6 linked regions of the Homo sapiens genome follow. The protein of the gene in region 4 purifies or fractionates together with the protein of the main gene of each other region. This does not show direct contact. Each region holds a gene or a part of one and is shown on either strand. Other genes may lie near its edges. The genes, in order: SLC25A16, PARL, SLC25A20, CPQ, HS6ST1 and C1orf198.

Region 1 (2,513 bases), on a different chromosome or scaffold from region 4:
AACGAGAGTCTTAACTCTGTCACCCAAGCTGGAGTGCAGTGGTGCAATCTCGGCTCACTGCAATCTCCACCTCCGGGTTCAAGCGATTTTCCCGAGTCATCTTTCCAAGTAACTGGGATTACAGCTATGTGCTACCATGCCCAGCTGAGTTTTGTATTTTTCTTTCTTTTCTTTCTTTTTTTTTTTTTTTTTTGAGACAGAGCCTCACTCTGTTGCCCAGGCTGGAGTGCCCAGGCTGGAGTGCAGTGGTGTGATCTCAGCTCACTGCAACCTCCACCTCCTGGGTTCTAGCGATTCTCCTGCTTCAGCCTCCCGAGTAGCTGGGGTTACAAGCACCCGCCACCACGCCCAGCTAATTTTTGTGTATTTAGTAGAGCTGGGTTTTGCCCTGTTGGCCAGGCTGGTCTTGAATACCTGACCTCAAGTGATCTGCCCCCCCGACTTCCCAAAATGCTGGGACTACTGGCATGAGCCAGTGCTCCTGTCCTCATTCCATTCTTCACCGTGGTACTGACCATCCATTTATTCAGCACCAATTGTGTGCCAGACCTTGTGTCAGCATTATGGAGGACTTCCCTTGGGAGGCTTGTTAGCTGTACTTGCAATCTGATTTGGGTTCCCAAATCAGCATATAACACCAGGTATTTCTCTAATAGAGTATGTGCCACACTTTCTGCTAACTGCCTGTTTATCAGTGTCCCCACATCCCAATATCTGGTTCCTTCAAGGGCAGGGAGCACAGGGTATGGCGTCAGAGTGGTACTCAGTGATGTTTACTGGTGGGTAGAAGGAAGGGTTAGTCCCTGTTTTTGAAGACTTTATGTTCTAGCAGGCAGAAATGAAGCACAAATAGTTCAAGAAATAAACAATTTAGGAATAAAGTCATTTGGTTTGCTTCGCAGAAATGTCTTATTGCTGATTTGCCAGCATGAGTGGCAAATATATAATAAAACCTGGCCGGGCATGGTGGCTCACGCCTGTAATCCCAGCACTTTGGGAGGCCAAGGTGGGCGGATCACGTGGTCAGGAGATCAAGACCATCCTGGCCAACATGGTGAAATCCCATCTCTACTAAAAATATAAAAATTAGCCAGGCATGGTGGTGGGCGCCTGTAGTCCCAGCTACTTGGGAGGCTGAGGTAGGAGAATTGCTTGAACCCAGAAGGCGGAGGTTGCAGTGAGCCAAGATTGCCCCACTGCACTCCAGCCTGGGTGACAGAGTGAGACTCTGTCCCAAAAAATAAAAATAAAAATAAATGAATATATAAAATAAAAAATATATGTATACATATCATATATATATATAAAATAAAACTTATAAATAGTTTTTATGGCTGGGTGAAGTGACTCATGTCTGTAATTCTAGCCCTTTGGGAGGCTGAGCGAGGAGGATCACTTGAGCCTAGGCATTCGAGCCCAGCCTGGGCAACATTGCAAGACTCTGTCTCATTTTTTTATATAAAATGTTTTTTTAAAAAACCCTATGTATAATTATTTATTTTTTTTCCCCAAGGATTATTCCCAAACTATGTACAATTAATGGGTTGCCTTGCAGAGTTGGATCAATAATACCTGACACACTTGTATAGCAAGCATACACTTTACATAGTTCCTCGCATCTATTCTTTGAAACCCAGACACATTCTAGTATTGGGCACTAGAAACTGGTGATAAATAATAACAATTACATATATTTCCTGAAGAATTATGTGGCATTCCTTGTTTTAAGCACCTTTGATGCCTTAGCTCAATCTCCATTACAATACTATGATATAAGTACCATTTAATATTTCTTTTTGACAGATGGGAATAATCGAGGCCTAGGGAGATTAAATTACTTGGCCAGGTTCATGTAAGTGGCAGATCTAGGATTCAAATTCAGCCGGTCTGAATCTAGAGCCTATTCTTTTAGCTATGATGCTATACTTTAATACAGTAATACACTGTTCAAATGAAACTGTAACATGTCATTAAATTTGAACTTGTCAATAAACATACCAAGCAATAAAATAATTACAGCTTGTGGAAAGTGCTTATGAAAACAGTAAATAAGCTACTTGAGAATGGTCAAGGAAAGGTTTCTTTGATGTGCTATATGTACATTCAACAGACACATGGAGGATGAAAAGGAAACAGCCATGCAAAGAGTTCAGGGGAAAGACTGGCCCAGGTGAAGAGAACGCCAAGCACAAAAACCCTGAAACAGGAAAAAGTTTGGTTTGACAATGGAATTGCCGAAAGGCTGGTGTGACTGAAGTATTGTGCGTGAAGGAGTAGCAACAGATGGAGTCAAAGAAATAGACAAAGGCGGTGGGGCATGGTGGCTCATGCCTATAATCCCAGCACTTTGGGAGGCTGAGGTGGGCGAATCTCGAGGTCAAGAGATCAAGACCAGGCCAGGCACGGTGGCTCACTACTGTATTCCCAGCACTTTGGGAGGCTGAGGTGGGCGGATCACAAGGTCAGGAGTTCAAGACCAGCCTGGCCAACATAGTGTTAACTCTGTCTCTACT
Region 2 (5,890 bases), on a different chromosome or scaffold from region 4:
TAGGTACCCCACACTTCAGATGCCAGTGGAGGCGGCACAGCCCAAGAGGCCCACGGGCCAGGGAGTGCATGGCCTTGAAGGCAGTGATCGCGGGTCCCCAGAGAAGCCAAGAGGAGAAAGTGAAGCACCCTCGTGGGCAATCAGGAGGGAGCTGTGGACAGCAAGGCTTCTCCGGCCACAGCCAGGTTCTGGCCTCCCCAGGCCATGCACAGAGGCTCCAGCATTGAGGGGTTTTAGGGACCAGGAGATGCTACAGGGACTTCTAACTTTTTCCCAGTCACAAAGCAGGGACACAGAGATGTCTTCATTGCCTCTTTGCCTGGTCTGCCCAAAGCACGATGTGAATTAATGTTGGGCTCTAGAGGGAATGTCCCTATGAACTCAGCCTCCTATCCCATCTCTGGAAAACGCATCTTGCCTCATCTGTGTTGCAGAGTTGTTAGCAGATGTCAGAGCAAAGCATTGTGACCTTGGGCAGTGCCCCTACACCACGTGTGCCGTTTCCTCGCTGGCAAAATGATGGCTAAGATAACTCTCTCCCCTAGAAGTGATACGAGTTTAGAACAGAATCCTGTGCCTGGGAAGAATAACTGTAAATCATAGTAGAAACAAGTCCAGCCTGATGGAAGAAGGATATGAAGGACTGCCAAATACTGGACAATTTCTATGTGCTGGGCGCGTGCTGCCATGCAGTTCTCACTTGCCTGGTGAGGTGGGCACCACTCCCACTCCTTTTCCAAAGCCGCCATTCCCATCCCCCACGGCACACAACCTGAGTCCGATCGGCCACAGGAGGCTGAAATCAGGGCCTTCGATCCTCCCAGGACAAAGCTGCAAGACTTGGTATAACATTTTGAAGCCATCAAAAGACTAAAAATTCTCCTGTAAATGACTTCAAGAAGAACATACTCTCAAACTGCATTTCCTAGATGTCATTCTCAGTCACGAGGGTAACATGAATTCCACAACAGTGAGGCTGTGACGACGACAGCCACTATCTGCTATTTCAGTGAGACGCTTCAATTAGAACACTTTCAAACAGAAGATAAAATTCGGCTCAGATTCAAGTCTGAATTTACCCAAATCACTTCTTTCTACCTCTTAATTTATCTACAAATTGAACCTAGAAAGCAAAACCTGAAAATAGCTTTTTGTATATGCCACTCACTGCCAGAAAACACTACCTTTCCTGAAAATTGAGAAAATACTGCAGCTGTTATTTCAGATTGTGCTGGAGAGGGGATACTCTCGACTTTTATGTGCAGCCAACCCAGGGGAGGGGGAGGCAAGGAAGAGTGAAGGCTAAGCAGAGGCACTGGAGGGTCCAAAGACAGGCAACCAGCGCCTTCATGTTCTGATCAGGCCTTTCAGGGTGCACTCTCCCCAGGTCCTGTCAATGCAACAACCAAAGCAAAATGCCAGAGCCGTGTCGGCCCCTTAAAGAGAGAACACACACATCTGCTTACAAACTAGATAGAAACCTTTATTTCACAACTTTATCATCATTCACATTCTAAAAAGACACGGACTGGGGGACACAGCTGAAAACAGTGGGAGGCCAGATGCTGGCATCTTCCAGACGGGAGCATAGCCATGGTCACTCTAGCCGATGTCTCCTGGGGCTCTCAGGCGGCAAGGACCAGATGCACCACTACTGTCCAATCCCAGTTTTACTTAGAGCCACCTCCTTTTTTGGGGCCATTAGTCCTTATTTCATGCCAGATTTTCACTAGCGGCTCCCTGTTCTTCCAAATCAGTTCATGACCGTAAGTAACATACCATCTGGAGAAAAACAAACCAGGTCCGACATTCAAACAGTGTGACATACAAATGGTAAGTAGCATGGTGACAGATCCCAAGTTGACATTTTTAAAATCGAATGCCACTCACTATGTAGCCGATTAAAACTGACTCACATCGAGAAATGGTTTAGCTTTCATATTACAATATGTAAAAGGTAGAAGTAGGATGGGACGATGGCTGAATGCTCCGCAGTGTGTGAGTACTTCACATATACTACTTTTGATTCACCACTATCTGCAAGTTAAGTATCAGTTTTCCCATCGCAGACATGAAGCAACCAGGTCTGAAAGAAAGTAGTTTGTCCAAGGTGCTAATAGTTTCTAAGTGGTCAATGAAAGCTCACTCGCAGGTCAGACTGACTCGATGTTCTGAAGTGTCAGAATTAGCACTGACTCAGGATGGCTATCCCAGCTTCCATGCCTCCCGTCATCTTCCTCCTAACTATACGAAGGGTGGCCCGCTCATCCAAACTCTGCCCCGCTTTAAGATACCTAGTTCCCATCCCCACTCTCCTGTTCACACAGCCTAACTGCGGCCTGAAGCAACGAGCCTGGGAGGCTGACGCACAGAGAGGTTTAGTAACTTCGCCTGCTCAGGTTCCACAACTAGGAATCAGCAGACTGAGACTAGAACCCGAGTCTGCTGCTGAAGCCTGTGCTGCAGGCACTGGACTTTCCTGCAGCGTGTAGGGAGCATCTTCTGTGAGCTGGGGAGCACACTGCGCTCTGGGAAGGGCCTGCCTTGGAGAAGCTCCTGAGGGCACTGGGGGTAGAGAAAGGCTTCCTGGAGGATGTGGGGTGGATTTCCAGGGGCAGTTAGTGAGAGCTTGCTATTAAAACCTTTATTTTTGCTCTGGCTTCCCCAAACAGATTTCATGTTCCCTGAGGCAGAGACCAGATTTTGTTATCTTGCATCGAGCTCCCAGACACCTGACTGAAAAAATGCTATTTGACTTGGAGTGGGTGAGAAGAGCAGTTTAATGTTTTAATATTTTAAAAATGTTCTGAATGTGTATGTTTAATTATAAAGGGCTTGATTTGTACCTGAATCTTAATATTCACTAAATATAGTTAAAATCTGATTATACACATTAATTAACAGGCATGTAATAAAAATTCTCTGTGCTTAAGTCTCTGGTGAATTTAGAATGAGAGAAAAAGGAGCACCCTAATATTCAAATGCAATTATAAAAATTCTCCCCAAAAAAATCACTTTGTCAGGAACTCTTCATTAATAAAGTGTTTTCCCAAATCTTTTTTGTTGTTAGACAGAGTCGCGCTCTGTTGCCCAGGCTGGAGTGCAGTGGCGTGATCTCAGCTCACTGTAACCTCTGCCTCCTGGCTTCAAGTGATTCTCCTGCCTCAGCCTCCAAGTAGCTGGTATTACAGGCATGCACCACCACGCCCGGCTAATTTTTGTATTTTTAGTAGAGACGAGGTTTCCCCATATTGGTCAGGCTGGTCTCGAACTCCTGACCTCAAGTGATCTACTTGCCTCAGCCTCCCAAAGTGCTGGGATTACAGGCGTGAGCCACTGCGCCCGGCCACCCAAATCTTTTTAACCTACTTATTTCAAGCAAAGAGTCAAATACTTTAATTTCACAGGTATACTGTCTGATTATACTCATAAATCCAAAAGGAATTTTTCATTTGGCTAAACTAAAATCGGGAAATGCAAGATGACCGATTTCTAGGGCACTCTTTTCTGTAGCGGCAGCGCAAGCCAGCCCTCATCTGAAACTCCAGCTCTGCAATTGTTACTTGTGTGACCTGGATAAGTTACTTTCTTTAAGCAGTTTCTTTTTCTGTAAAATAAAATACCTCACAGGATTTTAAGAGAATTAAATCCTTAGCTTAGGCACACAGCAAATATTCAGCGTATTAATATGTTAGCTATTATTATTGCAACAGTACAATGTGAATACTGTAAGGTTTGGTCAGAGGCAAAGTCAGGGAAATGTATAAGTGGATACTAATGGAGTCTTTACCACCAACAAAATCAGGGCACTTCAACGAAAAAAAAATAAATAAAAGATTTTAGATTTCTAAATCTAGATTAAAGCTTTTAGAAAAGATGAATTCTGGACATGACTGAAATCTAGTAAATGAAAAGGAGTTTAAATTAGAAACAGTAAAGAGAAAGGATTCCTCCACCTTTCAGACCCTGGACTTTAAAATGCATTTGATCCAATTATTTTCAGAATGGAAAAAGGCCACCTAATTATAGTTCAGATGAATAAAAATCTACTGGGGAGAAGAGCCTTGAAGTATACATGGAAGATAAATTTAGAGCTCACAAAACAGAACCCCTTCATGTTTCTCATACTGTAATATCAGGTCAGTTTCTACTATTTATACTGCACTGCTGTTAGAGCTAGACCTTGCATATACTACATACTACTCCTCTTTAATCACTTAAAATTATAAATGGCATAATGGCATTTAGTTCTGCCACCTACTGGGAAAAACTGCTTCACTTAGAATAGATTTTTCTTTTTTTTTTTTTTGAGACAGAGTCTCACTTTGTCGCCCAGGCTGGAGTGCAGTGGCGTGATCTCGGCTCACTGCAAGCTCTGCCTTCTGGGTTCACACCATTCTCCTGCCTCAGCCTCCCGAGTAGCTGGGACTACAGGCGCCCGCCACCACGCCCGGCTAAGTTTTTTGTATTTTTAGTAGAGACGGGGTTTCACTGTGTTAGCCAGGATGGTCTCGATCTCCTGACCTTGTGATCCGCCTGCCTTGGCCTCCCAAAGTGCTGGGATTACAGGCGTGAGCCACTGCACCTGGCCAGAATAGATTTTTCTTTTTAATAAAAAAAAAAATTAAGTTTTCCATTGTCGCGGAACAAAATAAAAACCAAGTAAGGGCAAAAGGCAACATTTATGTAAGAAAAGACAGGCCCCGAGGGGATCCAGCTCATGCTGACGGGTCTCCCACGATCAGATGGACGCCAAGAGTCCTGACCGTGTTTCCGTGATACAGTTACTACTAAGCACTAGTCTAGGCAAAACCCCATTGTTTGAAGCACACGTGGAAGGTCTTGTAACCACAATGCCATTTGCTGTGACCCAAGGAAGCAGTTTAGCAACCAATTCCATATGGTGTGGTGGGGGTGGAAAGGGCTTATAGAGGTGGGTTTACAGCTCTGCTCTGCTATTGAAGAGCTGTTTGGCCTGGGGAAGATGATGTCTGAGCCTCAGTTTCCCATCAGTAAAATGGGAGTAGTAATAGTATAACATAAGGGAACTAGCTTGGTGCCTGCATACAGCGGGTACTCAGTAAGTGGTCCACATTGGTTTGCAGTCACCGGCCTCTACTCCAGTCATACAGAGCAATGGCTCCGCCAACTCAGCATGTCTAAATAGCACTGGCGAGACAGAGGTCAGGGTAGCAGGGTGGGACGCCAGGCAGGGGAGAGGAGGGCAGGAAAGTCTGAAGGGGAAAAAGAAGATGTCAGCATAGACTGGGGGCCAGGCTGCAGTCTTCTAAGAGGGGGCTGGGAATAACAGGCCAACAGTTGGGGCAACTTAAGGTTAAGCGTAGGGTAAAGGCACAGACTGTCTCTACAATGAGCCAGGTATGCTGGGTAAACCCAAAGCAAGCCACGTTGAGGTTTCCTCACCCTCCCAAGCCCACCTGCTTCTGCTTCCGTTGCATAGTTCAATGTCTCTGCCATGGGGATGGGGGGTAGGGGTGAGGCTGGGGTAGGAGGAGCGCATGACCCAAGGAAGCAGTTTAGCAATCAATTACACTCAAACTTACATTCCAAAAAGAGCTCCCCCAAGATGTGCCGCATGATCAAAAAATTTCCATCCCAGGATCATTCCTGCTGTATCCATGGCGATAATGGCTTTCAGGGCCTGAAAGGCAGCAAGAAACAAGCGGCACAACTGTGATTGCTCCAGCACTGACATTTCTAACTTAAGGGCAAGAACCCACTCAACATAAAAACATCACCACTATCCCCAGCACTGCACTTCATAAAAATACTTACATTCCCTGCTGTGAACGTGAACATCGGAAGGAAAATAATGGCAAGCCTCCCTTCTGGGATCTTAGTGCAGACAGCTGCGAGGACTGTCATGATG
Region 3 (5,280 bases), on a different chromosome or scaffold from region 4:
TTTGGGGGCTTTTTTTTTCAGACAGGGTCTCACTCTGTCGCCCAGGCTGGGGTGCAGTGGTGCGATCACAACTCATCACAGCCTTGATCCCCTGGGCTCAAGTGATCCTCCCATCTCAGCCTCCCAAGTAGCTGGGACTACAGGCGTGCGCCACCATGCCCACCTAATTTTTGTATTTTTTGTAGAGACAGGGTTTTGCCATGTTGCCCAAGCTGGTCTCGAACTCCTGGGCTCAAGTGATCCTCCTGCCTTGGCCTATTAAAGTGCTGGGATTATAGGCATAAGCCACTGCACCCGGCCAGCAATCTGCCAATATGTAGCATACCCTTTCACCTGGAAATATTTTGTGTGGAAAATTTATTGCAAGGAATTTATTCTAGGGAAATACTCAGAGGTGTAAAAAGAATAACCTCAGGCACTTATAAGGTACCAAAATTTTGGGGAAAAAAACAAAAGCTGCCAAATAGAAGACAAATTATAAACTCCATAAATGGAGTCACATGGCCAAGAAATCACATTATAACATGAGAAGAGATTATTAAGTAAAAAAAAAAAAAAAAGCTACAAAACAGGATACACAACGTGATCTACCTTCTTTGGGGTAAGATTACAAGTGATTAAGAAAATGTTTTATATTTTCCAGGTATTAAGATGGGACTTTTGTTAGAACTGCACAGCAATTTTCACTAGCACAGTTTAGTAATGAAAGGGAAGATGAGCCTGGGCAGCATAGCAAGACCCTGTCTCTACAAAAACAAATAAAAAATAAAAGTTAGCCAGACGTGGTGGTGTGTGCCTGTAGTCCTAGGCAGTCAGGAGGCTGAGTTGGGAGAATAACTTGAGCCAAGGAGTTCAAGGCTGCAGTGAGCTATGACCTTGCCACTGTACTCTACCCTGGGTGACAGAGTGAGACCCCATCTCTAGAAAAAAAAAAAGAAAGTGAATTATGTGGTAACCAATAAATAATTAGACAGACAGACAAATACATACATAAATACCCTGCCAAACAAGGTGGTAAACGAGGAAGATTCAGGACCTGGGAGACCAGGGGGCCAGTCCAAGAGAGATGAAATGCGTTTCTAGGATGGCACAGGGTGCAGTGGACCTGGGAAGCAGTCAGTCCACAGGGCAGTAGAGGACTCCAAAAGCGATGTTTCCAAGAAAAACAGAACAAGGCTGGGTGCAGTAGCTCATGCCTGTAATTCCAGCACTTTGGGAGGCCAAGGCAGGCGGATCACAAGGTAGGAGATCAAGACCATCATGGCCAACATGGTGAAACCCCGCCTCTACTAAAAATACAAAAATTAGCTGGGTGTGGTGGTGCATGCCTGTAATCCCAGCTACTCAGGAGCTGAGGCATGAGAATCGCTTGAACCTGGGAGGCAAAGGTTGCAGTGAGCCGAGATTGTGCCACTGTACTCCAGCCTGGCAACACAGCAAAATTCCATCTCAAAAAAACAAAACTAAACTAAAACAAAAACAGAACAAAACAATACACACTAGAACAACAGAAAATAACTCCTTAGGCAGTGTGTAGCAAACCAAACAGAAAGGTACACTACAGAGCATTTAGGGTACAGAATGACAGAGACAGTGATTCAAAGACAAACAAAACAAAAGATTTAACACAATTATTAACCCAATCCCAAGGGAAACAAGAAGTTACACAAGGAATGGAATGCACATCATACTTCATACTTACTTAAGAGAAAAAATATATATAAAGTTGTAATCATGAAAATGGTGAATTGGATTAAACCACAAAGGGTGATAAAATCATATGGATGGGCAGGGCAGAAGGAGGGGATAGGGAGACTAAGAGCTAAAATATAAAATAATGTACCACAAATAGGTAGCTAAAAAATATAAAAATGTATAAAATATAATAGTAATGGCCGGGTGCGGTGGCTCATGCCTGTAATCCCAGCACTTTCAGAGGCCAAGGCGGGCGGATCACCTGAGGTCGGGAGTTCGAGACCAGCCTGACCAACATGGAGAAACCCTGTTTCTACTAAAAATACAAAATTAGCCAGGCGTGGTGGCACATGCCTGTAATCCCAGCTACTCAGGAGGCTGAGGCAGGAGGATCGCTTGAACCGGGAGGCGGAGGTTGCAGTGAGCCGAGATCGCGCCATTGCACTCCAGCCTGGGCAACAAGAGTAAAACTCCGTCTCAAACAAAAAATAATAATAATAAAAATAAATAAATAAAATATAATAGTAAATGTATATTATGTAGATAGGTGGAAACAGCATAAACAACTGAAAAAATTGAAAGTAGTTGCCTCTGGAGAATGAAGGAAAGAGATAAATATCACTTTGTTACTTTGTCATAAGCTTCTCAGTAACAAATGAAGTGCCTGTATCAGGGCCTATAATCTCAGGTACGCAGGAGGCTGAGACGGGAGGATCACTTGAGCCCAGGAGTTCAAGACCAGCCTGGGTAAAATAGCAAGACCCCATCTCAAAACCATTTTTTTAAAACAAATACAAAAAAATTTTAAAGTTTCTCCTTATAGAGAGTAGCAGGAGAATCAGGGTGAGGCTGCACACTGGCAGGGCTCCACAGACCCAGGCTGAAGAACCTGCCTCACTGCAGACCCTGGGTATCCAAACTTTCTTTTCAGAATCAAAGTGGCACAACTGTACCTGTCAGCATTCCTCCTAATTCCTGCAAAAGCCTAAACTGCTGCAGGCTGCAGGTGGACTCCAAGAACAAAGTACAGAGGCAGTAAATGGGAAAAGGACAGAGATCTGAGGAGGATCTGCAAAAGTAGCATATGACAAAGTCCATTCAAAGCCATTCCCACAGCTCCCTACATGAGCTAAAAGGATGACCAGGTCCTGAGAGGTCAAGCCCATTCCTCCTGAACAACTTGTCTAGTCTTCCTTCCACTAGAATGGCCAACCCAGTTCCATGTTTCACAACCTACAGACCCCTGCCTGGCAGCTCCAGAAAGCAGAAAGCTCAAATCTGGCACAGGAAAAACCAGGACATGCACAAATATGGACTAAGGAAGCCTATTCAACTCTTCAAAGACTTGGGTTTATACAAGACATTCTCACCACAACTCCAGGACCCAGCACATTGCCCACCCCTAGGCAGGTGTTCAATAACGTCTAATGACCAAGAGGCAGGTAAGCCTACCTTCCTTCTGTAAGGGCAGAGGACTCTAAGTGGACCTGAAGCCTAGAACCTCCATCAGACACTGCTCAGACTCTACCCTGGGCACTAGAGATGTAAGGAGGAGGAGCTTAAAGAAGAAAGAACAAGGCCAGGTGCCATGGCTCACGCCTGTAATTCCAGCACTTTGGGAGGCCAAGGAGGGCAGATCACGAAGTCAGGAGTTCAAGACCGGCCTGGCCAATATGGTGAAACCCCATCTCTACTAAAAATACAAAAATTAGTCGGGCATGGTGGCAGACGCTTGTAGTCCCAGCTACTCGGGAGGCTGAGGCAGGGAGAATTGCTTGAACCCGGGAGGCGGAGGTTGCAGTGGGCTGAGATCGTGCCACTGCACTCCAACCTGGGTGACAGAATGAGACTCCATAAAAAAAAAGAAGAAGAAGAAAGGGCAGGCCAGGCGTGGTGGCTCATATCTGTAATTCCAGCGCTTTGGGAGGCTGAGGCAGGCAGATCACCTGAGCTCAGGAGATTAAAACCAGCTGGCCAACATGGCAAAACCCATCTGTACTAAAATTATAAAAATGAGCTGGGCATTGTGGCAGGTGCCTGTAATCCCAGCTACTTGGGAGGCTGAGGCAGGAGAATCACTTGAACCCAGGAGGTGGAGGTTGCAGTGAGCCAAGATCGGACCACTGCACTCCAGTCTGAGTGGCAGAACAAGACTCCATCTCGAAAAAAAAAAAAAAAAAAAAAAGAAGGGTAGCACCACCTCACTCAAGGACGGTTGGGCAGGCACTGCCTCAAGATCTTCCTAAGCCAGATGCAGTGGCTCATGCCTGTAATCCCAGCACTTTGGGAGGCTGAGGCGGGCAGATCACAAAGTCAGGAGTTTGAGACCAGCTTGGCCAACATGGTAAAACCCCATTTCTACTAAAAACACAAAAATTAGCCGGGCATGGTGGCAGGTGCCTGCAATCCCAGCTACTCGGGAGGCTGAGGCAGGAGAATCACTTGAACCCGGGAGGCAGAGTTTGCAGTGACCGAGATTGCGCCACTGCACTCCAGCCTGGGCAACTGAACAAGACTCTTGTCTCAAAATAAATAAATAAATAAATAAATAAATAAATAAATAAATAAATAGTTTAAAAAGATCTTCCTTCTGCACCCAAGTCCTACAGGAATCCTGGGAACAACTTCGCCAAGGCTGAGTCCATCACTTACTATCACTCCCTTTTTATCTGGATGACTACTACTTAGTTTCTGTATATTTAATCAAGGCTATAAATTTAGAGACTATAATAGAGTGTTTATATGAAAGTTATATTTTAGGGCCAGGCGTGGTGGCTCATGCCTGTAATCCCAGCACTTCGGGAGGCTGAGGCGGGTGGATCATGAGGTCAGGAGATCGAGACCATCCTGGTTAACATGGTGAAACCCTGTCTCTACTAAATATACAAAATTAGCCAGGCATGGTGGTGCATGCCTATAATCCCAGCTACTCAGGAAGCTGAGGCAGGAGAATCACTTGAACCAAGGAGATGGTTCAAGAGATTGCGGTGAGCCAAGATTGTGCCATTGCACTCCAGACTGGACAACAAGAGCAAAACTCCGTCTCAAAAAAAAAAAAGTTATATTTTAGGAAGCAAAGGAAAAGATCTCAATGAGGTCTTTAAGACCTGTGTTAATGAAGTTATTTATTATTATTATTAATATTATTCTTATTTTGAGACAGAGTTTTATTCTTTTTGCCCAGGCTGGAGTGCAATTAGCCAGGCATGATGGCACATGCCTGTAATCTCAGCTACTCGGGAAGCTTAGGCAGGAGAATCTCTTGAGCCTGGGAGGCAGAGGTTGCAGTGAGCCAAGTTCATGCCACTGTAGTCAAGCCTGGGCAACAGAGTGAGACCATGTCTCAAAATATATATATATAATAATAATAATAACTCCAAACCAATTTAATGTCCCTGTCTAGGGGAACTGGAGACTGATAGCTTCTCTCAGTGTTTCTAGGACTGGCTGACTTTTCCTTCAGACTTTATTCATATGCGCTTCTGACATGGATCCCTATCAAACTGACTGATCCAGATGCAGGTGTACATTTTCTTTTTTCTTTTTCTTTTTTTGAGACAGAGTTTCACTCTTGTTGCCCAGGCT
Region 4 (4,660 bases):
TGTTTTATTGTGAAATATACCATACACACATAAGATTGTACAGAACATAAATGTATATTATAAAGGGTGAAAATAATAAGTACATATATGTCCATAATTTAATGCAAGAATGATATCACCAGTATCTTGGAAACCCATTTATGACACCCCTGCCCACTGCAGATCTTTTCCTCCCTCCAGAGGTACCCACTAGCCTGTCTTGCCTCTTAATTACTCCTTGCTTTTCTACAGTTTTACCACTTCATACTTTACCACATATATGTATATGACTATATATAACAATTATACGTGTACAGATATACAGTTTAATATTGCCTACTTTTGAACCATATCCTCCAGATATATTTCTTTAGCTTGCTTTTTCCATTCAAACATATATAAGATTTATCTATGCTGTTGTGTATAGCTCTAGTATTTTCATGTTTTATTGCAGTATATTACCTCTTTGTATTTATTTATCCATTTTACCAACAATGGTCATTTAGGTGGTTTCCAGTTTTCTATTACGTGCTGCTACCAACACTATCAAGGCTTTGAATGTAGGAGTGGTTTGCTGGGCTATAGAGTATGTGTGTGTTCAATTTTACCGTGCAATTCCAAAATGTTTTCCTTTTCAATTTACACTTACACTGTTAGTATATGAGTCATTCTCTTGCTTCACATAGTCTACAGCACTTGATATTGTCAAACTAATTTTTGTAAATTTGGTGAGTGTGAAATGCTAACATTTCATTTTCAGTTTTAAAAGAAACTAATTGTGAGATTAAGTATGTTTTTACATGTGGATTTTTTTGTCATTTATGTGTGTTTTCTCTTTTGTGAAGTTCTTGTTCATGCATTTTGCCCATTTTTCAATGGATTTGTCTTTTTCTTATTGACTTGTAAGAGTTCTTGGCATAATTTAGACACTTCTGTTAGTAAGTTTGTATATATCATTTCCCAGTTTGTGGCTCATCTCTTTACCCTGTTTAGTGTGTGTTTTGATGAATAAGTGTTTTTACTTTCAATGTAGTTGGATTTATGAATATTTTCCTGTAAGATCCATACTGTTTATGTCTTAAGAAGTCCTTCCTTACCCTAATATTACAAAGATATTCTCTGAAATTCTATTCTAAATTTTAAAAATATTTTATTTTCATTTTTAAGTTCTCTACCCATCCAGAATAGGAAATGATTTTTGTGTTGGGTGTGAGGTAGGATTCTATTTTCAGTTTTCCATTGCCTAGAAACATTTATTCATTAGTAGTACATCCTCTTTCTCCACTGATCTGCGGTACGGATTGTGCCATATTAAGTTTCCTTATATGTTTATTTTGGGGCTTTCTAATTGTTTCAGTGATCTATTTGTCTATCTCTGCAACAATGCCACACTATCTTAATTGCTATTACTTTAGAATCCTTGATATCTGTTAGGGCAAATTCCCTCACTTTCTCTTCCTTCTTCTTCAGGAGTGTTTTGATTATTCAGAACCATTTGCTCTTTCAGATAAATTTTAGAATCATTTAAATATACTCCAAAAGTATTTTTGGATTTTGATCAGAATTGTGGTAATATCTATTTTAAATTGGGGGGAACCGAACATCTTTTTATTAGAATATTGTGTTCTTATCCATGAAAATGGTGTGTTTATATATGTTTCTATTTGTCTTCTTAATGTCTTTAAAGTTTTATAACAGTTTTACATCCCTTTTGTTCATTTTCTTTCTTTGATGGCTTATATATTTTGTTGCTATTGTAAATTTTCATTTTGAAAAACCTACATTTTCTGTTTGTGGCTCTCCAGTTTTAGTATCAAGGATGTATCTGATGCATAACATGGTTTTCCTTCTTTTTTTTATACATTCTGGGATAGTTTGTGTAAGATTAGAATTATTTATTTCCTGGTTATTTTGTAGAACTTTTAACAAAGCCATCAAAGTCTGATGTTTTCTTTATGATAACAATTTTAACTAATGATTCAATTTCTTTCATGGTTATTGGCTTATTCAGGTTTTGTACTTATTCTTGAATTAACTATGGAAATTACATTTGTCTAGGAATTTGTGAGTTTTGTCTAAATGCTCAAAATAATTGGCATGAAGTTGTCAGTAATATCCTGTTTTTAATTTTAGTTGATGTCTGCAGCATCTATAGTGATGCCCTCTTTTTCATTCTTGATGTTGATTATCAGTGTCTTCTCTGTTTTTTTTTTAAATCTTGCTTGCAGTTTGTCAGTTTTATTAATAATTTGAAGAAAAAGAAAAAATGATGACTTTCATTTTTTGGATACTTTCTATTATTTAGTAGTTGTTCTTCCATTGATTTCTGCTCCTAAGTTTATATTATGCTTATATTATTTTACTCCTCCTTTCTTTGGATTTATTTGCTTTTCTTTTTCTAATTTTTGGAGTTAAACACTCAGTTTATTACTCTGCAGACGTACTTTGTCTCTAGCATAAGCAGTAAGGCTATAATCTTCCCTCAATACTGCTTTAGCTGTATCTCACCAGTTCCCATTAGTAGTTTCATGACAATTCAGTTCTAAATATTTATTAATTTCTAGTTTTACTTTTTCCTTGACTCATGAGTTAGAATGCATTTTTTTAATTTTCAAAAGTATGAAGTTTTCTGAGTTATTTTTTTCATTATTGATTTCTAATTTAACTGTTAGAGAATGTTGGCTGTATGATATAGATTCTTTGAATTTTGTTGATGTTTGCTCTATGGCCTAGTATGTGATGCATTTTTGTAAATATTCCATGTGTATTTGAAGAGAATGTGCTTTCAGTGCTCTGTGTAAGTCCATTAGATCAAGCTTCTTAATTGTGTTCTTCAAACCTTTTAACTCCTTACTGATTTATTGTCTATTTGACCCATCAATTTTGAGAGAGATGTGTGAAAATGTCCCTCTGTGAGATGTGTGAAAATGTCCCTTTGTGATTTTGAATATTCCGTAGTTCCAGTAATTTTTTAAAATATATTTCAAAGTTATGCTGTTAGGGGTATACAAATTTAAAATTATGTATCCCTGGTAAATTGAAAACTCATCTGTAATGTTGCTTTTTGTTCTGGAAGTCCAGTTTTTCCTAATAATTAAGATAGGCACACCTAGTTCTTTTTGCAGAGTATTACCCTGGTATGTCCTTTCCCATCGTTTTACTGGCAGCCTTTCTCTATCTCATACTTTTAGGAGTTTCTCTTATGAATAGTTTAGAGTTGAATTTTTTTGCTTCTATCTGTTTATTATGTTTTCTAGGTTTCTTTTTTTTCTTTCTTTCTTGCCTTCTTTTGGGTTGATTTTTTTCCCTTCTCTCATTCCTTTTCCCTCCAACTCTATAGTTTGGAAGCTACATGCTTTATTTCAATTCTGTCAGTGGAGACCTTGGAAATTATAGGTTACATATTCATCTTAATAAGTCTAAAGTTAATCAATATCTTATAAAGTACACTAGTGGCCCCAAGTTTTGTACTTGTCCTAGATGCACCCACTGCTCATTAAAACCCATGCTCTAGGCAAACAGGGATTAGCAGACAAATGCCAGGCCCCAGGGTTTTCTTACTTCTATAGATTTTCATTATTTCTATTATTTCTCACCTCTGAGGAATTCCCTTATTTTGCCTCTTGCTAAGTCATGTATTATTAAAAGGCAATTATTATTATATCCAATAACTATTTTAGGGAAGGGGAGGTATGTTTCTATGTGTTTCTGGTAACCACATTGCTAGGATTTCCCTCTTCAAATCCCCTACCTCCTGTCTTGTGGACTGGACATTGCCATTGTTCTTGAGCCCTCCATTGCCCCAGGATGCCATCTAGATTTTCTCCAAGCCCAACCCACGTTCTTACAACTTTGTACCAGAGTTTTCCCCTATCTACTCCCATAAACCCCTTGCTCTGGGGTGGAGTACTTAGGATGTCAACAGACAGATATAGGCACAGGTATTCCAGATGAACAGAACATGTGAGCGTTCCAGTTTGGTTGACACTGGGGGGTAACTTGGGCTAATTATTGGCAGATAAAGTTGGCAACTACCTGTGGAAGGTCCTAAATGTCAGGCTGAAAATAGACTGAATGTAGTTCATAAATGTGGAGCCATGGTGGTTGGGAGGATGAATGAGAAGGTGGGGTGACTAGAGATGCACCTTAGGGAGATGCTCCAAAAAACATGAAGGAGAAATTGTGTGAACAACTACGAAGGTGAGTAAACAGCTGGAGAAGAGGTCCAGTCTGAGGAGAAGTGAGAGGGACCAGGGCCAGATGATGACATCTTGACCTCCAGAAGGCACAGATAACCACATTTCCCAGTAGAAAAGCCAGAAGTCCTTTTTTTTTTTTGAGACGGAGTCTTGCTCTTCGCCCAGGCTGGAGTGCAGTGGCGTGAACTTGGCTCACTGCAAGCTCCGCCTCCCGGGACTACAGGCGCCTGCCACCACGCCCAGCTAATTTTTTGTATTTTTAGTAGAGAAGGAGTTTCACCGTGTTAACCACGATGGTCTCGATTTCCTGACCTCATGATCCGCCCGCCTCGGCCTCCCAAAGTGCTGGGATTACAGGCCAGAAGTCCATTTTAAAACCAGAAAATACTTTATGCCATGAACTCACAGCACACCCAGGGGAGACAAATCTGTATGTTTACTCTGGTAGTAGCTAGAAAGCACTTTAACAGAAACTGTGACAT
Region 5 (5,280 bases), on a different chromosome or scaffold from region 4:
GGGAGGGCCCCGGTGGACAGAGTCCTTACAATTTAGGAGATGCTGCTGGCAAAGGAACTGTTGACCCAAAGCAGGTGGCCTGAATGGGAAGTGCCAGGCTGGACACTTGGGGGCTGAGGGCACTGCCAGCTGCCGCCGCCTCTGGACACCTCAGCCCGGCGCTGGCCCGAGAGGAGACTGCTTTCCAAATGCAGCGAAGAGACTGAGACAAGACCCGTGCTTCCGTGTGAGTTGGGATGCGGGGCATAAGTTAACACATATTCCAATATGTACAAAACAACCTGCGCTCAGGCCCGCGCACCCAGGAAGCCCATGGTGAAGGTGAGGTCACCTTGAGCCAGGCCTCTGGCTGGGTGTCCACCTCCTGCCGGGAAGCCAAGGTGCCCCACGTGGCTTGTGCAAGACCTCACAATCCCCTGAACGTGTTCCTCCTCCTCCAAGGAGTGCACCCACCCCCATGTTGAGTGTCCGAGCAGATTCCCATTGACCCTGACCTCCCTTTGAAAGAACCACACCACTAAATCCCCTTGGCACTCACTTCCTTAGTGTGATGCATCCACCCAGGGAGGTGGCCCTGCGCGGCGCTGGCACGCTGTCCACCCTGCCCTGTTGACCATCCTGTCCTTGGACCCCAAAGTAAAATGGGGCCAGTGTAGGAGACCTGAGGGTGGGGCCCTTATGCCAGACCTCCAGGGGTAGCGACCTCACCTGACCCCAGCTTCGGCTTCCTGTGCTGCAGAAGGCGCTTGCTCCCAAGCCCGTGGTGACCCACGTCTCCACCCCATGGTGTGGCAACTGTGGTGGCTGAGTGGAAGCTGGGGCAGGAGAGAGGACCCCCACCAACCCCAGCCAGGTGGCCTGCAGAGCCCACTGCCCTACCTCTGAGTCAGCCTGCGGCCTGAGCACACCAATCTACTCTCTGGGGGATCCAGGGTGCCTGTGTGGGCCCTCCTAGAGACACCAGCTTGGCCTCCTAGGGCATAAGGAATGGGGACAGGGCACAGGGCACGTGCTTACAACGGATATGCAACATGGCTTTTGGTAGGGCCATTGCAGCCAGTGGGGAAACCTGCGCGGCTGCTGGGAACAGAGCATGGCCAGCCTTTTGCCAGGGGGTGGGGAGCATGGGGAAATGCAAGGAGAGCCAGGGTGGGGAGGGCTGAGTGTCTGTTGTCAGGGAGGCCACCTACAGCTGTTTTGCCAAGGCTAGTTGAGAATCTGAAAGCTCGAGTCCCAGTTCCTGGCCATACAGAGCCACTGTGGTCCGAGGGTACGGCTCCTGGGCAGGGGCTATGGTCCCATGCTCCAGCCGATGGAAGCCTGATGAACTTAATCCGTACGCTGGTGGGAGCAGTGGTATTTGAGCTCTTGAGTATGTGTTTCGGTGATGGGGCTGGGGCAGCCTGCTAGCAAATCCCAGTGGGTCAGAAAGGAGAACAGAGGCAGGGGAGCCCTCGGTCCCCAGCCCTTCCAGTCTGAGCCAGGCCTGCCTGGATGGTCACCTCCAAGGGCCAGCCGCGGACTCACGCACAAGTGGCAGCATCCCTGGCCAAAGCCTCCCCACTCCTGGGCTGCCAGTTGGCCCGAGGAAGGCCGGCAATGCAGCTCGGGCCTACTACCCAAACCCCTCCTTGGTCTGAGGACTGTAGGGAGTGGGTGGGGCCTGAACATCAGCTTTGGCCTCCTGACCCAAAGCATGAAGCAGGACCATGGGCCAGAGAGGGGAGCAGGCTTCCTGGGGGCTGGACTCGAGTCTTCTCTGCCTCAGATGGGGTGGGCCCTGACTTTGAGGGAGCTACAGATGGGTGAGCTGGGGGCTCCCCAGGCCTCGGGGCATTGGGGGCAGCCAGAAGAGGAGGGGCTATGGGATGGCCTGGAGCTGGGGCAGTTGCCAGAAGCTGGTCTCACTCCTAGTAGCCCGGACAGAGGAGCTAAGAGCGAGTGCTGTGTGCATAGTTGGTGAGGGACACACTCCCGGCCTGGCAGGTCCACTTTCCGCTGTCCTCGTCTCTTGCGCAAACCTTCAGTTTTTGCGATAAATCCAAGGAGGCCAGGAGAGCAGCTCCAGGCACAACACCTGCTCTGGAGGCCCTGCCCTGACCATGGCATCCTTCGAGCACGCTTTCCTCTGACCCACTGGGCTGCACCTGTTGATTTCTCAAGCCCCCATCCCTGCCCAGCCCCACTACATCCCTGCTCTGTTTTTTTTCAGGACGCAGCTACCTCTGTGGAGCAGGTTTGGGATGCTCATCCCTTGACAGTCTTGGGTGGACCTGTCGTCTGTCCTGTTTTATCCCCCACACCCCCCAAGAGGCCTCCCCGTGGCCACCACCGCCACTACCACTTCTCAATGATGTGGCTCATGTAGTCCTCGGTGGGCACGCGGCCCGGCTCGTCGGCATCCTCCCGCGGCAGTGCCTCCTTGGCCCGGTGCAGCAGACGCTCCTCGCGGCTCCTCAGGCGCTGCTCCCTGCGCTCCAGCTGCCGCTTGTACTGGTAGCGCTGCTGGAAGAGGTCCTTGGCGTAGTCGTACAGCTGCATGTCCAGGTCGTTGAGCTCCTCGATGCGCCGGATGGTGTCTTCATCCACCTCCACGCCGCCCGCCCGCGTGCTATTGTACTGCATGAAGGGCCGGATGAACTTGAGGTTGAACGTCCGCTCGAACAGGTACTGCGTCTTGCGCTGGAACTCGGTCAGGCCGAAGAAGGCCATGCCCCGCAGGTTCTTCTTGGCGCTCTCGAGCAGCAGCTGGGCCCGCTTGCCCTCGGGGATGAAGGACAGGTTGTAGCAGCCCACCAGGCTCAGGTCGGCCAGCATGCGCACCTGGCGGTTGTTGGCCAGGTTGTACGGGCAGTCCATGAACTCCTGTAGCGTGCAGCCCGACCAGTCCGTGCCCTCGTAGCAGGGCGGCAGCTCCTCAGGCGTGGGCGTGCGCCCATCACACATATGCAACGACGTCTTCCACGTGGCACCCCTCTGCACATGCCGCCACTCGCTCAGGTAGCGGGACACGGGGTCTCGTAGCAGGGTGATGTAGTAGAACTTCCTGCAAGGAGACGGGGAGAGGAGGTGAGGGCTGTGACGCAGCATGAGGGGGGCTACCAGGGCTGCTCTGAGTCAAAGTCCCCACTACAGGAGTTTGGGCTTCGCCTCTAATGCCAACCAACTCCTGCACTTAGCTCTCAGTCGTTTCAAAACCCGGTATCAGAGATGCCAAGGAGCATGCCACGGTCACATGGCTACCCAGGATGACCACCACAGTGCCCTGCAGCGCCTGGCCTGGCTCCTCTGGAGGGACAACCTGACTTTTTCCTGCTGGTGGGTGGAGCCACCAATACCGCATCCAGAGAAGTCGCAGAGCCACAGCCGCCTGAGGCCAGCAGTCTTCACCAGCTGTTTACAGCCTGGGCATGGTGCCACCCAAAGAGCCACTCAGCAGGAACAGAAGGTGGGCAGGGGCCAGCGAGGGTCACCTCCAGTCCCAGTCCCAGGGTCCTGCCAAGGCCTGGTGGTGGTTGGGGGGGGGGTGCCCAGCGGACCAGCCAGCCCAGGACCCCAGAGGAAGCCATGACGTATACACCAACTCTACTTGCTGGGTTGTCCCCCAAGACACCAACGCATTGCACAGTATGTAACGGTGCGTGCACAAGGGAGAAACGACCCAAGGAAGACTCCACCTCCCACCCTCCCCTGCGCGGCAGGAGCCCAGCATGAAGCATGTCCTTGCCAGGCTCGCTATGACGCTGGGCTGGAGGCGTCAGGACACTGGACAGGTGGGTAAAACGTGGTGGCGGCTGTGGATATGCCCGGTGTGTGTGTGTGGGCTCAGCCCCGGGAGAGGCTGCAGTCATTCTTAGAGGGCTCCTCCTCCTGGCTCCTGTCCACGCTGGGGTGGGTGGGCTTCAGGCCAAGTAGAACCAGGGCCAGGCAGGCAGCCTAGGAGCCCACAGGGCCCCTCACTGCCCGGGGGAGCAGCTCCAGAAGGGCCCTGACCCCCCGCCAGGATTCCCCAGATGGCAACATGGAAGTGTACCCACACTGCTCCCCTCCTCCCCTCACACTGCCCTGGGCAGGGGTGGGGGTGGGGGGCATGGAGGGACCCCGGGGAGCACAAAGCGCTTCTTGGTGTCCGCTGGCAACTGCCTGATCTGACCGCACACCTCCCTGCAGGGAGGGAGGCACAGTGCCTGGCAAGTGGTGCGGTGCCACTGCAGGCCACCCCCGCCTATGAGGACATGTCAGAAAGCCCCAGGGGTGGCAGCTCTGAAGCAGGCGGGGTAGCCAGTGATGGCTCCAGGGGCAGGCAGCAAGGCCAGCACTACTGCATGCAGACTGCCGAGGAAGGGACAGGCAGCTGTCATCCGCCCAGTGTTTTCTGTGGCCTGGCAGGCTCAGACCCTGCCCTGGAGGAGCTCTCAGCAGATGGGGTGGAGGAAGGACCCAGCAGGACTGAGCTGACGACCCCAGGGTCAGGCACGGCTGGTCTCCAGGGGGCAGATAAGCTGTGGGCAGCAGGGGCGAGAGCAGGCCTCAGTTTCCCTGCTCCAGGCTCCCACTTCACACGTCCCAAGGCACACCTGGCCCTCCCCAAGCACCCTGCACCCACAGCCTGCCTGGTACCACCCATCCATGCTGATGGCAGCAGCTCCTGGGCACTCGGGGCCTCAAGGGCCAGAGGGCGGGACCTTCTTCAGGTAGCAGGTGAGACAAACGTTTTAGAAACAATAATGACCAAGGGCCAGGGAGTAAGGGCCCGAGGCGGCCGGGGCAGGCTTCTGTCTCCTGCCTCAGGCTCACGAGGCCCTGACTGCTCAGAAGAGGCTATCCATATCCTTCCTAGCTGACCCTGTGTCCAGGGGAGGCATAGGGCCGCATGGACCTCCGCTCCCCACTCCTGTGGGGCCGTGACCAAATGGATGGAGACAGGCCAGTGTGGCAGGTTTCTTCTGAACACAAAAAACCACAGTGTGATGTGTCCACCAACAGAGAAGCTTGCCCTCCTAGCCCCAGCCAATGACCCTGTGAGTTACAGCCACAAGGACTCTGGCCCCAAGGGTGACTCTGAGGGCAAGGACACGCTGTGCACAGTGCAGCAGGCCCCATCTGGGAAACACAAATGGCTCAGTTCCTCTCCCATTTTCAGCGCCCCAGCCCACAGGCGGGTCCTTCAGCCCCAGCCCCACACCCATTCAGGGACCATCCCCTGAAGCCCAAGGCATGCCTCCATCATGAGCTCCTCTGCCCATGGCCCAGAGAGGGTGTGTGACTTGCCCAGGGCCA
Region 6 (5,280 bases), on a different chromosome or scaffold from region 4:
CATTTAAAACGACCCAGATAAAAGAGCCTACTTCTGTCTCAGAGGTTCCCTGACCTCAATTTATCTCAGTGCTTGAAATCAGAAGATTAAATACAGTTCAATGCAATCTATACTCTGCCAGCATCCAACACTAACCCCTCTTCAACCCCAGGCATGTCTGTGAGCAGCTTACAGACCTTACAGAGAAAAGAACAATGTCTCTGTATTTTTCTATAAATCTTTTCTGTTTCTGAATGACAGCCATGTTTAAATTTATTCATCCTAAATAAGAGAACAAATGATAAAGATATTCCTTCAAATATAAAACAAACATCACACACAAACACAACAAAAAAGAACTTGTAAAGTTGAGAAAGTAAACATAGTGTGGAAAGAATGTGAAGCTTATTTCTTTCAGATCTTGTGAAAGGTTATGAAGTGATTTTCCCAAACTCTAAGCTCAGCCTCCGGGGCTCAAGCGATCCTCTTGCCTCGGCCTCCCACGTAGCTGGGACTACAGGCATGCACCAGGCGTGCACCACAAGGCCTGGTTTAATGTCATTCTTCTTTCAGGGGAAAGGGCTTAACTGACAGGTCCCCTCTTGTGAGCATGGGCTGTCTCAAGCTGCTGCTGTTTTCATAAAACTTCTGACTGGCTTCCACTCAGCAGCCTGTTTCTGATGTCCCTTTCCTCCAGCCTAACACCGGCAGGCATTTACCTGGTGCGCCAAGGTCTTCTTGAGCAAAGAAACCTTGACTCTCCACCCTCCAAGCAGCCGGCCAGCAGAAAATGCATACATGGCGGCAAGAGCAGGCAATGGGCTAATGGGCTTGCCCTTGACACCTGTCTCAGGCCCAGTTTGGCTACATGTGAGACTGGTGCAGAGTGAGGCAAAACATGCAGAATGGAAGGAGTGCAATCCAGTTTTCCTTGTTCTGGTTTCCTTCCAGTTTCTTAAATGCAGTGGCATTTCACTGTGCTTTACTCAGAAATCTGTTCTCTCAAAGGAATTTCATGTGCTGTCTCCTACTCTCCACTGCCCACACAGAAACACGTTCCTGCTTCTCTTTAGAGTGGGGACTATCACCTATTTTATGGAAATACTTCTTTCAGAGGAAGCCCTCAGTGCCGAGTCTCAGAGAAAGAGTGCTGGTTAGGGAGGCAGGGAACTGAGCCTGTCTGTAAGGAGGAGCTGATGGGCAGGAGGATGTGAGACAGAAAACAGAACGGAGAGATGGGCAGGTACCGGAGAAGGCAGGAAACAAGAGGGCTGAAAGCACTAGCTTAAGAAGGTGCAGAAACACGAAGAGGACAGGCTAGAGCACTGATGTGGAGCCGAGGTGGGCAGAAGGTACTAGCACCGCTGGATCCTCCCTCCTCGGGAGGACAGCACGTGCAGCCATCTGCCGAGGGAGGTGTGGAAGTACTGGAAACCTGCTCTGGGGGACATTCAATGTTATCAGTGATGATCTCAACTCAACAACAAAATAACCAAAAATTTAAAAATGGGCAAGGGACCATTGGACATTTCTCCAAAGAAGATACACAGATGGCCAATAAGCACATGAAATGAGGCTCAACATCATTCACGATCATGGACAGGCAAGTCTAAACCACGGTGAGACACCACCTCATACCCCTTCGCATGGCACCAGCAAAGACACAGAAAATAACAAGTGTTGCAAGGGAGTGGAGAAACGCGAACCCACATTGATGGGAATGTAAAATGACGCAGCTGCTGTGGCGAACAGTATGCAGGTTCTTCAAAAAAGTAGAAATAGAACCACCATGTGATCCAGCAATTCTACATCTGGGTATGCACCCAGGAGAAGGGAAAGCAGGGGCTGGAAGACTTATTTGTACATACACGTTCACAGCAGCACTATTCCTAACAGACAACAATAGCCAGAAGGTGGAAGCAACCCAAGTGTCTGTCGATGGATGAGTGGATACACAAAATGTGGTCTAACCACACGATGGAATATTAGCCTTAGAAGGCAATTCTACACTTGCTACAACATGAATGAGCCTTGAAGACGTCACATTAAGTAAAGTAAGTCAGTCACAAAAGGGTAAATACTATATGGTGCTACTTATATGAGGTACCTAGAGGAGTCAAATTCACAGACACAGAAAGTGGAATGGTGGTTGCCAGGAGCTTGCGGGGAGGGATGAATGAGAAGTTAGTGTTGAACGGGTCCAGAGCTTTAGTTCTGCAGGATGAAAGGAGTTCTGGAGATGGATGGTAGTGATGGTTACACAGCATTGAGAATGTACTGAAATGCCACCAAATTTATACTGTAAAATGGTTAAAATGGTAAATGTTTGTATATTTTACCATAATAAAAACTTTTAAAATTCAGTATATGGAACCAGCCCAAATGCCCACCAATCAATGAGTGGATAAAGAAACTGTGGTATATATATACGATGGAATACTACTCAGCCAAAAAAGGAATGAATTAATGGCATCTGCAGCGACCTGGATGTAATTGGAGACTATTATTCTAAGTGAAGTAACTCAGGAATGGAAAATCAAACATCATATGTTCTCACTCATAAGTGGGAGCTAAGCTATGAGGATGCAAAGGCATAAGAATGACACAATGGACTTTGGGGACTCGGGGAAAGAGTGGGAGGTGGGTGAGGGATAAAAAACTACAAATTGGGTTCAGTGTCCACTGCTCGGGTGATGGGTGCACCAAAATCTCACACATCACCACTAAAGAACTTATGTCACCAAATACCACCCAAAACCTATGGAAATAAAAAATTTAAAAAATAAAAATTAAAAAAAAAAAGAGTGACCCACAAGAACCAAGGAGTCTCAAGGGCCAGAGGAGGATGGGTGAGGCTACCATGGAGGCAACTGCATCCTGGGCTCACTCCTCAGCAAGGCAGCCAGGAGCCCAGCGAGGCCCACAGAGGGGCAAGACCCAGTGAGGCCTCTCAAGTGTGCCTGCCTGCTTTGCCAACAGGCAGCTCCCCTGGCCCAAATCCAGACCAGTCCTAAAGAACAGACCATTGCCTCTATGGACAGCTCCCAAAAAGAAGGCCCAACACAGCTTTGAGCTGTGACAGCCCTGGGCGCAGCGCCTTCCAGGGGCCTCTTCTGATAGCAGCCCGCGCACTGGGGAAAGCGCAGTGGGCCACGGAACCCTGACTGGTAAACAAATTAGGGCACCCAGATGGACTCGCAAAACTTGTCTTGTTGCATATTTGTTGGTGGCTCAGCACCCTGAGCCTAGGCATCCTCTGAGGAAGAGGCAGGGGAAGGAGAAGAAAAAGAGCATGGGCACCTGTGGCCTGCCTGCTTTGTGGGGGACCCTCTCGGTTCCCGTGGAATAAGGCACCATCCCATCTGAGGACGCGCTGGTAAAGGCCACTCACCTGTGCAAACTTGGGTTCCGAGAACAGGGTGTCTTCCCCATCGTCCTGCCTGACATCAGGAGATGGCAGCTTCCCCTCGAGCTGGGAGGGGGCAGCCTCGTGCAGTGCACTGCTGAAGGCCTGGACAGGCTGGGGTCTCTCACGTTCGGTGCTCACGTTGGGAAGAGGACGCTGCTCCTGACGGAGGGTGCTGGGCCTTTCCACCTTGGCCTCCCTGTCCTTCGGGGCAGGTTCCTGCCGGTAGCAGGGAGGCAAGACCTTTTCCCCCTTCTCCATGGACTTGATCTGGCTAGGGGTCAGCGACTGGAACTCGGCCTCAGGCCCCTCCCCTCGGGACCGCTCAGCATTGATCTTCCAGAATGACGCTTCCTCCTCCTTCCTGGTGGGGCCCAGGGCGTCCAGGCTGGAGGACCTGCTGCCTTGGGAGGACTTGAGGGCCTGGGAGCCCTGGGAAGCTTTGGACAGTGGTCTGGGCTCGCTGGCGGCGGTGCCGTTGCTCGGCTCCTGGATGGATAGGGCGGAGATACTGAACTCCATCTGACTCTAGGGTGGGACATGAGAAAGGACAGAAAAAAGAAAGAGATCCTGAGAATCGACCGTCACAAGTGTGCCAGCTCACGCACCCCTCCTCAGCATAAGGACGCACACCAGCCACACACGAGTTGTTGCCCATGTGCTGGAACTGTCTGTCCTGAGTGGTGGGTATGGTCAGGACTCCCATCGCACACCTGAAATGCATCAGAAGCTTAAATGCCAAGGCCGGGTGACAGAGTGTGGGTGGTGGTCCCCTCCCAAATCTCATGTCGAACTGTAATCCCCAGTGCTGGAGGTGAGGCCTCGTGGGAGGTGTCTGGATCACAGGGGCGGATGTTGTCTTCATGATGGTGACTTCATGGCTTGGTGCTGTCTTCATGATAGTGAGTCCTCATGAGATCTGGTCGTTTAAAAGGGTGTGGCACCTCCCCCTGACTCTCTCCCTCTTGCTCCTGCTCTGCCATGTGAGATACCTGCTCTCCTCCGCCTTCCACCATGAGCCACAGCCCCCTGAGGCCTCCCCAGAAGCCAAGCAGATGCCGATGCCATGTTTCCTGTGCAGCCCGCAGAACCGTGAGCCAATTAAACCTCCTCTCTTTATAAATTACCCAGTCTCAGGTATTTCTTTAAAACAACACAAGAACACACTGATACACTCCCTCATGCACTATGCTACATGCAGCTCAAGATATCTGAGTATTACCGATGAGTAAGGGCTCTCTGCCTGGTAAACAGGGCACCCTCCTGTCTCCTCCAGTGTGGTTCTAGCACCTTCCTGGCAGGTGACGACCCTCATTGGGAGGATAACGAGGAAAGGTGCACACTGCAACAAAAGGCCACATCGCAGCCAGGGTCAGAACCCAGCCTCAGATCACAAACACCCAGAGGGCAGGGCAGGGCCTGGCACCCATCACAGCCTATGCCCCACATCTGAGCACCCACAAAATGCTTTCCTTGATCTGGATGCTGCTAACCACAGTGATCTCTAAAAATGACACTGCTGAGCTGTTTTGACCAACAAAATCATTACATGGCAACCTAAACCTCCTCTTTGGAGTAGAATGTTGTCTTCCAAGCTCTGCAGAACAAGCAATTTGTAATCTCAATCATTTCTAAAATCAATTCTGAAGACTTCTCTCTTCCCTCACCATTTCTACTCCCTCATATTTCCCTGCCTCTTTCTAAAATAAATTAATACGCCAGATGTGGTGGCTCACGCCTATAATCCTAGCACTTTGGGAGGCTAAGGATAGAAAATCGCTTGAGCCCAGTTTGAGACCAGCCTGGGCAACAAGTGAGACCCCTTCTCTACTAAAAATTAAAAAAATTAAAAAAAAAAAAAAAAAAGGCCAGGCATGATGACACACGCCTGTGGT

What was found.
Region 1: the proteins of CPQ (region 4) and SLC25A16 purify together in Homo sapiens (affinity purification with mass spectrometry; one large-scale study listed by BioGRID and IntAct). This does not show direct contact.
Region 2: the proteins of CPQ (region 4) and PARL purify together in Homo sapiens (affinity purification with mass spectrometry; one large-scale study listed by BioGRID and IntAct). This does not show direct contact.
Region 3: the proteins of CPQ (region 4) and SLC25A20 purify together in Homo sapiens (affinity purification with mass spectrometry; one large-scale study listed by BioGRID and IntAct). This does not show direct contact.
Region 5: the proteins of CPQ (region 4) and HS6ST1 purify together in Homo sapiens (affinity purification with mass spectrometry; one large-scale study listed by BioGRID and IntAct). This does not show direct contact.
Region 6: the proteins of CPQ (region 4) and C1orf198 purify together in Homo sapiens (affinity purification with mass spectrometry; one large-scale study listed by BioGRID and IntAct). This does not show direct contact.

The regions. Positions count from the first base shown.
Region 1 is NC_000010.11:68,477,498-68,480,010, reverse strand, and holds the end of SLC25A16 (solute carrier family 25 member 16), read left to right. Parts: 3' UTR 1-2,013; downstream 2,014-2,513. UniProt on the Homo sapiens protein: May be involved in the transport of coenzyme A in the mitochondrial matrix. Very little is known about the physiological function of this carrier.
Region 2 is NC_000003.12:183,827,928-183,833,817, forward strand, and holds the end of PARL (presenilin-associated rhomboid-like protein, mitochondrial isoform 1 precursor), read right to left. Parts: coding exon 5,797-5,890; intron 5,663-5,796; coding exon 5,565-5,662; intron 1,783-5,564; coding exon 1,671-1,782; 3' UTR 1,344-1,670; downstream 1-1,343. UniProt on the Homo sapiens protein: Required for the control of apoptosis during postnatal growth. Essential for proteolytic processing of an antiapoptotic form of OPA1 which prevents the release of mitochondrial cytochrome c in response to intrinsic apoptotic signals.
Region 3 is NC_000003.12:48,884,350-48,889,629, forward strand, and holds part of SLC25A20 (mitochondrial carnitine/acylcarnitine carrier protein), read right to left. Parts: intron 1-5,280. UniProt on the Homo sapiens protein: Mediates the electroneutral exchange of acylcarnitines (O-acyl-(R)-carnitine or L-acylcarnitine) of different acyl chain lengths (ranging from O-acetyl-(R)-carnitine to long-chain O-acyl-(R)-carnitines) with free carnitine ((R)-carnitine or L-carnitine) across the mitochondrial inner membrane, via a ping-pong mechanism.
Region 4 is NC_000008.11:97,137,545-97,142,204, reverse strand, and holds part of CPQ (carboxypeptidase Q preproprotein), read right to left. Parts: intron 1-4,660. UniProt on the Homo sapiens protein: Carboxypeptidase that may play an important role in the hydrolysis of circulating peptides. Catalyzes the hydrolysis of dipeptides with unsubstituted terminals into amino acids.
Region 5 is NC_000002.12:128,265,825-128,271,104, forward strand, and holds part of HS6ST1 (heparan-sulfate 6-O-sulfotransferase 1), read right to left. Parts: intron 3,047-5,280; coding exon 2,338-3,046; 3' UTR 1-2,337. UniProt on the Homo sapiens protein: 6-O-sulfation enzyme which catalyzes the transfer of sulfate from 3'-phosphoadenosine 5'-phosphosulfate (PAPS) to position 6 of the N-sulfoglucosamine residue (GlcNS) of heparan sulfate.
Region 6 is NC_000001.11:230,839,984-230,845,263, forward strand, and holds part of C1orf198 (uncharacterized protein C1orf198), read right to left. Parts: intron 3,914-5,280; coding exon 3,371-3,913; intron 1-3,370.